2 linked regions of the Homo sapiens genome follow. The protein of the gene in region 1 purifies or fractionates together with the protein of each later gene. This does not show direct contact. Each region holds a gene or a part of one and is shown in the gene's direction. Other genes may lie near its edges.

What was found. The genes of interacting proteins can lie anywhere in the genome.
Region 2: the proteins of CMKLR1 (region 1) and CNIH4 purify together in Homo sapiens (affinity purification with mass spectrometry; one large-scale study listed by BioGRID and IntAct). This does not show direct contact.

Annotation. Positions count from the first base shown.
Region 1 is NC_000012.12:108,287,546-108,290,928, reverse strand, and holds the end of CMKLR1 (chemerin-like receptor 1), read left to right. Parts: 3' UTR 1-2,883; downstream 2,884-3,383. UniProt on the Homo sapiens protein: Receptor for the chemoattractant adipokine chemerin/RARRES2 and for the omega-3 fatty acid derived molecule resolvin E1.
Region 2 is NC_000001.11:224,366,879-224,370,378, forward strand, and holds part of CNIH4 (protein cornichon homolog 4), read left to right. Parts: intron 1-3,500. UniProt on the Homo sapiens protein: Involved in G protein-coupled receptors (GPCRs) trafficking from the endoplasmic reticulum to the cell surface; it promotes the exit of GPCRs from the early secretory pathway, likely through interaction with the COPII machinery.

The DNA of each region.
Region 1 (3,383 bases):
GCTGGAGGTGCTTAGAATAAAACACTGGTGGTGGGGCTTCTCATTCTGGTTAATTTCCTCAACGCCTTTGGAGACAGGTCCAAAATGCAGCTTTGGGAAGCAACTCCGGAGAGTCCCCTGGGAAGAAGAGTATGTCCGAGGACTCAGTCACTTGAGACAGAGTCTGGAGCTGGACTCCTTGAACTGTGTTTCTGAGCTGCAGACACCAAATACCTCCTGGATACAGGTGCCTGGCATGGCTTTTCTCATCTAATACTGACACGTCCCTGTGGCCACAGAGTGTCATAGCCCCATTTACAAATGACATAGCTGAGGCCCAGATGGGGAAAGTAACTTGCCCAGCATCACACAGCTAATCAGTGGCAGAGTTAAGATCTGAACCTGGCTCCGTCTGGCTCCAGAAACTCTGTTCTTCTATTTGGAATTTATCTGTGGAGATTATTCTAGTATATTGATAGCCTACATTTATTTAGCACTTTTTATATTATGCACTTTACATATGTTTTCTCATTTAATCATTACAGCAACCCTGAGTTAGGTATGGTTATAACTTCCCTTTTACATAGGAGGAATCTGAGGCTTAGAGAGGTTAAGTAACTTGCCCAAAGGTACCCAGCTAGTCTCTGCCGGAGCTTGGATTTGAACTTCAGTTTGCCTGGCTCAAATGAGGCTGCAGAGTTGGGAAGGACTTAAAAAGTTTGGAGATTTTTGCCATAAATATTGATTTTTCTGCAAATGAGGATGAACATCTTAATGGCCTTTAAGAAACTTTGCAAATAGTTTTCAAAAATGATGCAACATGGCAGAGAAAATGCACTTGGCTTCCAGCTCCCTCAACAGCCATTAACAGCCTCCTACCGTGGCTCCCACCTCCTATGTCTCCAGAGATCAAGGCAATGGGGAGGGAAAGCTGGCAGGAGGCAGTCCCTTGTGGGCCTGAGGCCCTTTGGCTCCTAAGTGTCCACATTCTGTTCTCTTCCAAGTCCCTTCATTGTTAAGCTGATTCTCCAACAAGATGCAATGAACAGATGCAATGTCTACCCCGCGCTGGGCGAGTTCCCGAGGCCATGGGCTGTTTGGAATCACACTTCATTAAGAGACAAACTGTTCCTTCCCTTATTGTGCCTTAATGCTTATGACAAGGCAGCTCTGAATTGATCCCAAGCTGGAGCCTCTGAATGCTTTAAAGAGTTTGAATATAGACGGTTTGAGAGCAAAAAGGGAGCTTTAAATATTGCTCAGTGGCCCCCATCTCCCCTCTTCCCACATTTACTGAGGCACGAGATGGGATGGGACCTGTCCCGGGTCACAGCAGCAGTCGTCAGCGCCTTGGCCCTCCTGGCTTGTAGGATGCTGCTTTTCCTGGGCTTCTGGCAGTCCAGGCCAGGATGGGGGAGCCAGGAATTCATGTTGTCATTGGAAAAGCTGATAAACAGGAGCACAATTCAAACCGGCTGTTTTCCTCCTTAGAGTCTGGCCTCCCTCTTTCTGGCTGCTCTGTGGGTCTTCCTGTTCTGACTTAGGTTCCTGTCAAGTACTTAAATGCAGCCTTAACATCCCATACAGTCTTGTCCCCACAGCTTCATGTGAACATCTCCATGGGTCATGCATATATCGTCCCTGCAGTGTGCAAAGTGTGCTCACCTGCACTGCTGCACAGGCAACCAACATACTTAGTGCCCAGAGCCTTCTCTCTGGGCCCAGGACTCAGTGATGGGGCCTTACTTAGCCCTGCCTCCTGGGTGGGGTGGGGGAGCTGAGGGATCGTGAGGACAAGAGGTAGAGGGAAAAGAAAAGAAGATGGTGTTTGAGGATAGGGGAGGGACAGGAGAGGGGACAGAAAGGTCCCAGAGCATGATGATGAAGGAAAGGGATCTGGCATTCATGAAGCACCTACGATGGTTCAGGCACAAACACTGAAACCTCAAATTGGCCCTGGCAGAAGGGGACCATCATAGCAAGGTGGGGGGGGGGTGCAGAAAGTGAGTTTCTGTTTCAAGAACAGACTTCACTAGTTCAGAGTTGCACAGCTAGTGAGGTATGGAGCTGGGCTTTGAATCAGGTCAGCTGCCTGAATGCCCAACTTCTTCAGCCCTTGGAAGGAGAGGGTGGGGAGAAGAAGAAGGAAAAGACAAGGAAGAAAGAAAGAAGAGAGAAGGGGAGAGGAATGGAAGTCCAAAGAGTGGGAGGAATTTGATTTCAGAACCATCTCCAGCTGACCCTTGAGCCAGCAAGGACAGGGAGAAGGGAAGAGCAAGAACACGAAGGGCCTCAAGCACCGGGATGCCTTTGCCAGCCTTAGATAATTCCCAGAGCGCACAGAGCCCTGCAGGTTCCTGGGTCCTTCTCCAGAGAAGAGGCACAGAGATTCTGGCAGCAAGGTTCAGAAGGGGTGAGGAAACTGGGCACTGACAAAGGGAGGGGATTGGCTCAAATTCGACCCCAGAGTCAGCTCTGGTGGGGTTGGGAGCCTGGATGGGTGGGAGAAGATAGAATCCAATCGTGAAAACCATAAGGGACCTTCAAACTCATCTTGCCCAGATGTCTCCCATTTCACAGATGAGGGAACTGAGGTTTTGAGAGCTTCCCCTGAGGACTCTGCAAAACGAGGTGGTGTCTGGTTTGGATGAAAGTGGTCGGTGATTCCTCAACTCCTGCCCTGCCTCCCTCTCTCGTTCCTCCCTAACATGTTATGCTCTTGTTGGGGCTGGGATGCCCTAGGCCCAAGGTTACCAAATCCTGGGTTTGGAAAATTGCTGCTGGGGGTGGTATCTAGGACCAGAGAGGAATCTACTATTTCTACTGTGAAATAATTCAGCAGGGGGTCTTCTTACTTCTTCCCTTTGAGGACAAAGTTTCTCTCGAATAAAGAGACTGAAGCAAGAGTGTGTGGCTCAGTTCTGGGGGTTCCTGCCATCACCTCCCTTTTGCCTTCCTCACTTACTTCACAGAACAGCAGCTGAGGCTCAGAGAGGTGAGGCGGCCAGTGCAAAGTCACAGAGCTATGTTGTGGGCAGCAGGAGAAGCCCTGAAGTCCCCAACCTGCCATTCTCAAACCTTCGAGCTCCAAGAAATTTGCATTTTGAAAAAAATTCTTTTCACTTATTTTGCTTTTCTAGCAACTGAGGATGTGAAAGAGGTAGTTACTCACCCAAGATAATATAGTAAACCCTAGCAGATAAGGGACATAAAGCCAGGCCTCCTCATGGTCAGGTCTATACTCTTTGGCACTGCATCAGGTGGCCCAAGGACAGATGCTCCTGTGACACATTCATCCATTCACCTTTTCACCAACCCATTCACCCTAACATCCACCCACCTATCCACCCACCCATTCACTCCAAGATCTACCCATCCACCCATTCACCCCAAGATTCACCCAC
Region 2 (3,500 bases), on another chromosome or scaffold:
CGTGAAGCCGGGAGGCGGAGCTTGAAGTGAGCTGAGGTCACGCCACTGCAACCAGCCTGGGCGACAGAGCGAGACTCCGTCTCAAGAAAAAAAAAAAAAAAGCTGCAAATTAGGTAACTAATCAAAATTTTTTATTTAATAAATTTAGGAAGTTTGTTCAAAATGAGCTCAATGGAAACCCTGAAGTATATAATTTTATAGTTGGGTTATTAGACATAGCATACTTTCTTGTGAAGACCGCTGGGATAATCTTGACAAGCCTGTAATTGTTATATTAGTGGGTTGCTGCTCTACTACATTTTTAGGTTTTATTTCATTTTTATTTATGTCTAGTTTTTTGGGACAGGACCATTCATTGGCTGTTTTTTAAGTATGATGTTGTAAAGTGCAGTTAGAATAAAAAGAACAGAAAAAAATAAAGTAGGGTTTGGAGGAAGATGGGATGCACATGAAAAGATAATGGCAGCAGTAGAGGTGAGGGAAGGAGTGGATATGGGGGAATGATTTTATAAAGGTCATGAAACTAGAATCTGAGTGAGGGAAAAGCTTTAAAATATCTGTGTCTCTTTTCTAGAGGGTGGGTACCCTGGGGTCGAATTTTTTGTTTTCTTTTTCATTTTTTAATATACTGAACATGGGTTCTGAATTTTTTTTTTTTTTTTAAGAGATGAAGTCTTGCTGTGTTGCTCAGGCTGGAATGCAATGGCTATTCACAGGTGTGATATAGTGCACTACAGCCTTGAACTCCTGGGCTGAAGCGATCTTCCCACCTCAGCCTCCTGGGCAGTTGGGACTGCAGGTGCACACCACCGCACCTGGCCTCTTTCAAGCTTAGTAGTACTCTCCCATGATCAGTTCCATAGACCAACGCCCTAAAGTGAGCTCTGAGCTGGGAACACAGATTACTTGCACTTCTGCTGCGGGCTAGTCCCAGACAGACTTTTAGCACAGCTAAGTCTACCTGTAGTTTCACTTAAGTGAAACACAACTTTGGGAGTGAGAATGGGGACTCGAATCTTTGAGAATGAGGATCTTAATGTTATACCAGACCATACTGTCAGTCATCTCTACTAGAAATGAAAACCTGCTAGAAGAGCCAGCTTTGGCATGGCTTCTTTGTAGATAGTGGTAAAAGGTTCTATGAAGTCAAGTCCAAAGATTCTTTTTTTAGGCCGGGCGTGGTGGCCCATGCCTATAATCCCAGCACTTTAAGAGGCTGAGGTGGGTGGATTACCTGAGGTCAGGAGTTCGAGACCAGCCCTGGCTAACGTGGAGAAACTGCATCTCTACTAAAAATACAAAAATTAGCTGGGCGTGGTGGCATGCGCTTGTAGTCCCAGCTACTTGGGAGGCTGAGGCAGGAGAATCACTTGAATCTGGGAGGCGGAGGTTGCAGTGAGCCGAGATTGCACCACTGCACTCCAGCCGGGAAACAGAGCGAGACCCAGCCTCAAAAAAACAAACAGAAACACTGGAGATTCTTTTTTAAATATAATTATAAAATAAAGACAAAGATCATGTATATTTATTGCCCTGGTAACTGCAGTGACAGGTTGGCTGTCTGCTGGTCACAAGTTTACCTTCTATTTAAAAAGGTTTAAAAAATCAACAGATAGATTATTTGCTATTTTCAGACCACTATACTTTATGCTGTTGGAGATGAAGTACAGTAGTCCACAGGACAAAGAGGCAAAATACCTAGGAGTGGAATCACTGAGTCATATAGTAACTCTATATTTAACCTTTTGAGGGACTGCCTGAGTGTTTTCAGAAGCAGCTGCACTTTTTTTTTTTTCGAGATAGAGTCTCACTCTGTTGCCTAGGTTGGAGTGCAGTGGCGTGATGTTTGCTTACTACAGCCTCGACCTCCTGGGCTCAAGCGATCCTCCCACCTCAGCCACCCAACGTGTTGGGATTACAGGTGTGAGCCAGTGTGCCCAGCCACAGCTGCACTATTTGACATTCCCATCAACTGTGTATTGGGGGTTCCATTTTCTCTACATCCTTGCCAACACTTTTTACTGTGTGTGTCTTTTTTTTTTTTTTGATATCAAAAAAATACCAAAAACTGTCTTTGATATTTTTTTCCTGCCCTAGTAGTATACAGCTGTAGAGTTCCCCTGCCTGTTATAAGCATTAATATATGTGCCTCAGCGACCATCCCACTCATGGTCTTTGGGGAATCATACCACAGCTCTCAGCTACTTTTATCCAAATTGTGCTGATCTTTCTTGGCAATAAGTAATTTAGGTGTGATGCTCATTCTCCAGTATGCTGAATGGTCTATTATGGTAAAGTTGTATCAGTCTTCTAGTTATAACGCACTGGAAGTAAGAATTAATATGAAAGATTGGCTGTCAGACACTGGAAGCCTTATATAGTCCTGTTTTAAATTATTCCTGTGTGTTTTAGAGATGAGCGCAGTGGCTCACTTCTGTAATCCCAGCACTTTGGGAGGCCGAGGTGGGAGGATCACCTGAGGTCAGGAGTTCAGGACCATCTTGGCCAACACGGGGAGACCCCATCTCTACTAAAAATACAAAAATTAGCTGGGCATGGTGGTGTTGGGCACCTGTAATCCCAGCTACTCCGCAGCCTGAGGCAGGAGAATTGCTTGAATCCAGGAGGAGGAGGTTGCGCTGAGCCGAGATCTTGCCACTACACTCCAGCCTGGGCAACAGAGCGAGATTACGTCTAAAAATAATAATAATAATAAACTAAAAAAGTATAACTGGATCGTTTGTAACACAAAGGATAAATGCTTGAGGTAATGGATACCCCGTTTACCCTGATGTGATTTTTTTTTTTTTTTTTTGAGACGGAGGTTTGCTCTTGTTGCCCAGGCTGGAGTGTGATACCGCAATCTTGGCTCATTGCAACCTCCGTCTCCCGGGTCCAAGCGATTCTCCTGCCTCAGCCTCCTGAGTAGGTGGGATTACAGGCATGCGCCACCACGCCTGGCTAATTTTGTATTTTTAGTAGCAATGGGATTTCTCCATGTTGGTCAGGTTGGTCTTGAACTCAACCTCAGGCAATCCTCCCGCCTCGGCCTCCTGGAGTGCTGGGATTACAGGTGTGAGCCACTGTGCCCAGCCTTACCCTGATGGGATTAGTACACATTGCATGCCTGTATCAAAATCTCTCATATAACCCATAAATATATATACCTACTGTGTACCCACAAAAATTAAAAATAAAACAAAAATACAAAAAGGAAAAAAAAGACAGCTAAGTAAGTGGTGGTAGGAAGAAAGACTGGACAAGGGTTTGATGGACTGGCTATGAAAGATGAGGAAGAGAGAAGTCCCAGTTGGGTAAGAGGAAGTTTTTAAGGACCACCAAGAAAATGGTGACACTCTTATTAGATAACCTAGAAATTAGACAAGGATGAGATGTTATCTGGATATTCAAATGAAAATACCCTCTATTCAGCTATAGTCGGGCTACTGGGGTTTTAAGGGAGAATTTCAGATTTGTGGAACTCAGAGAGTCCTTTGCAT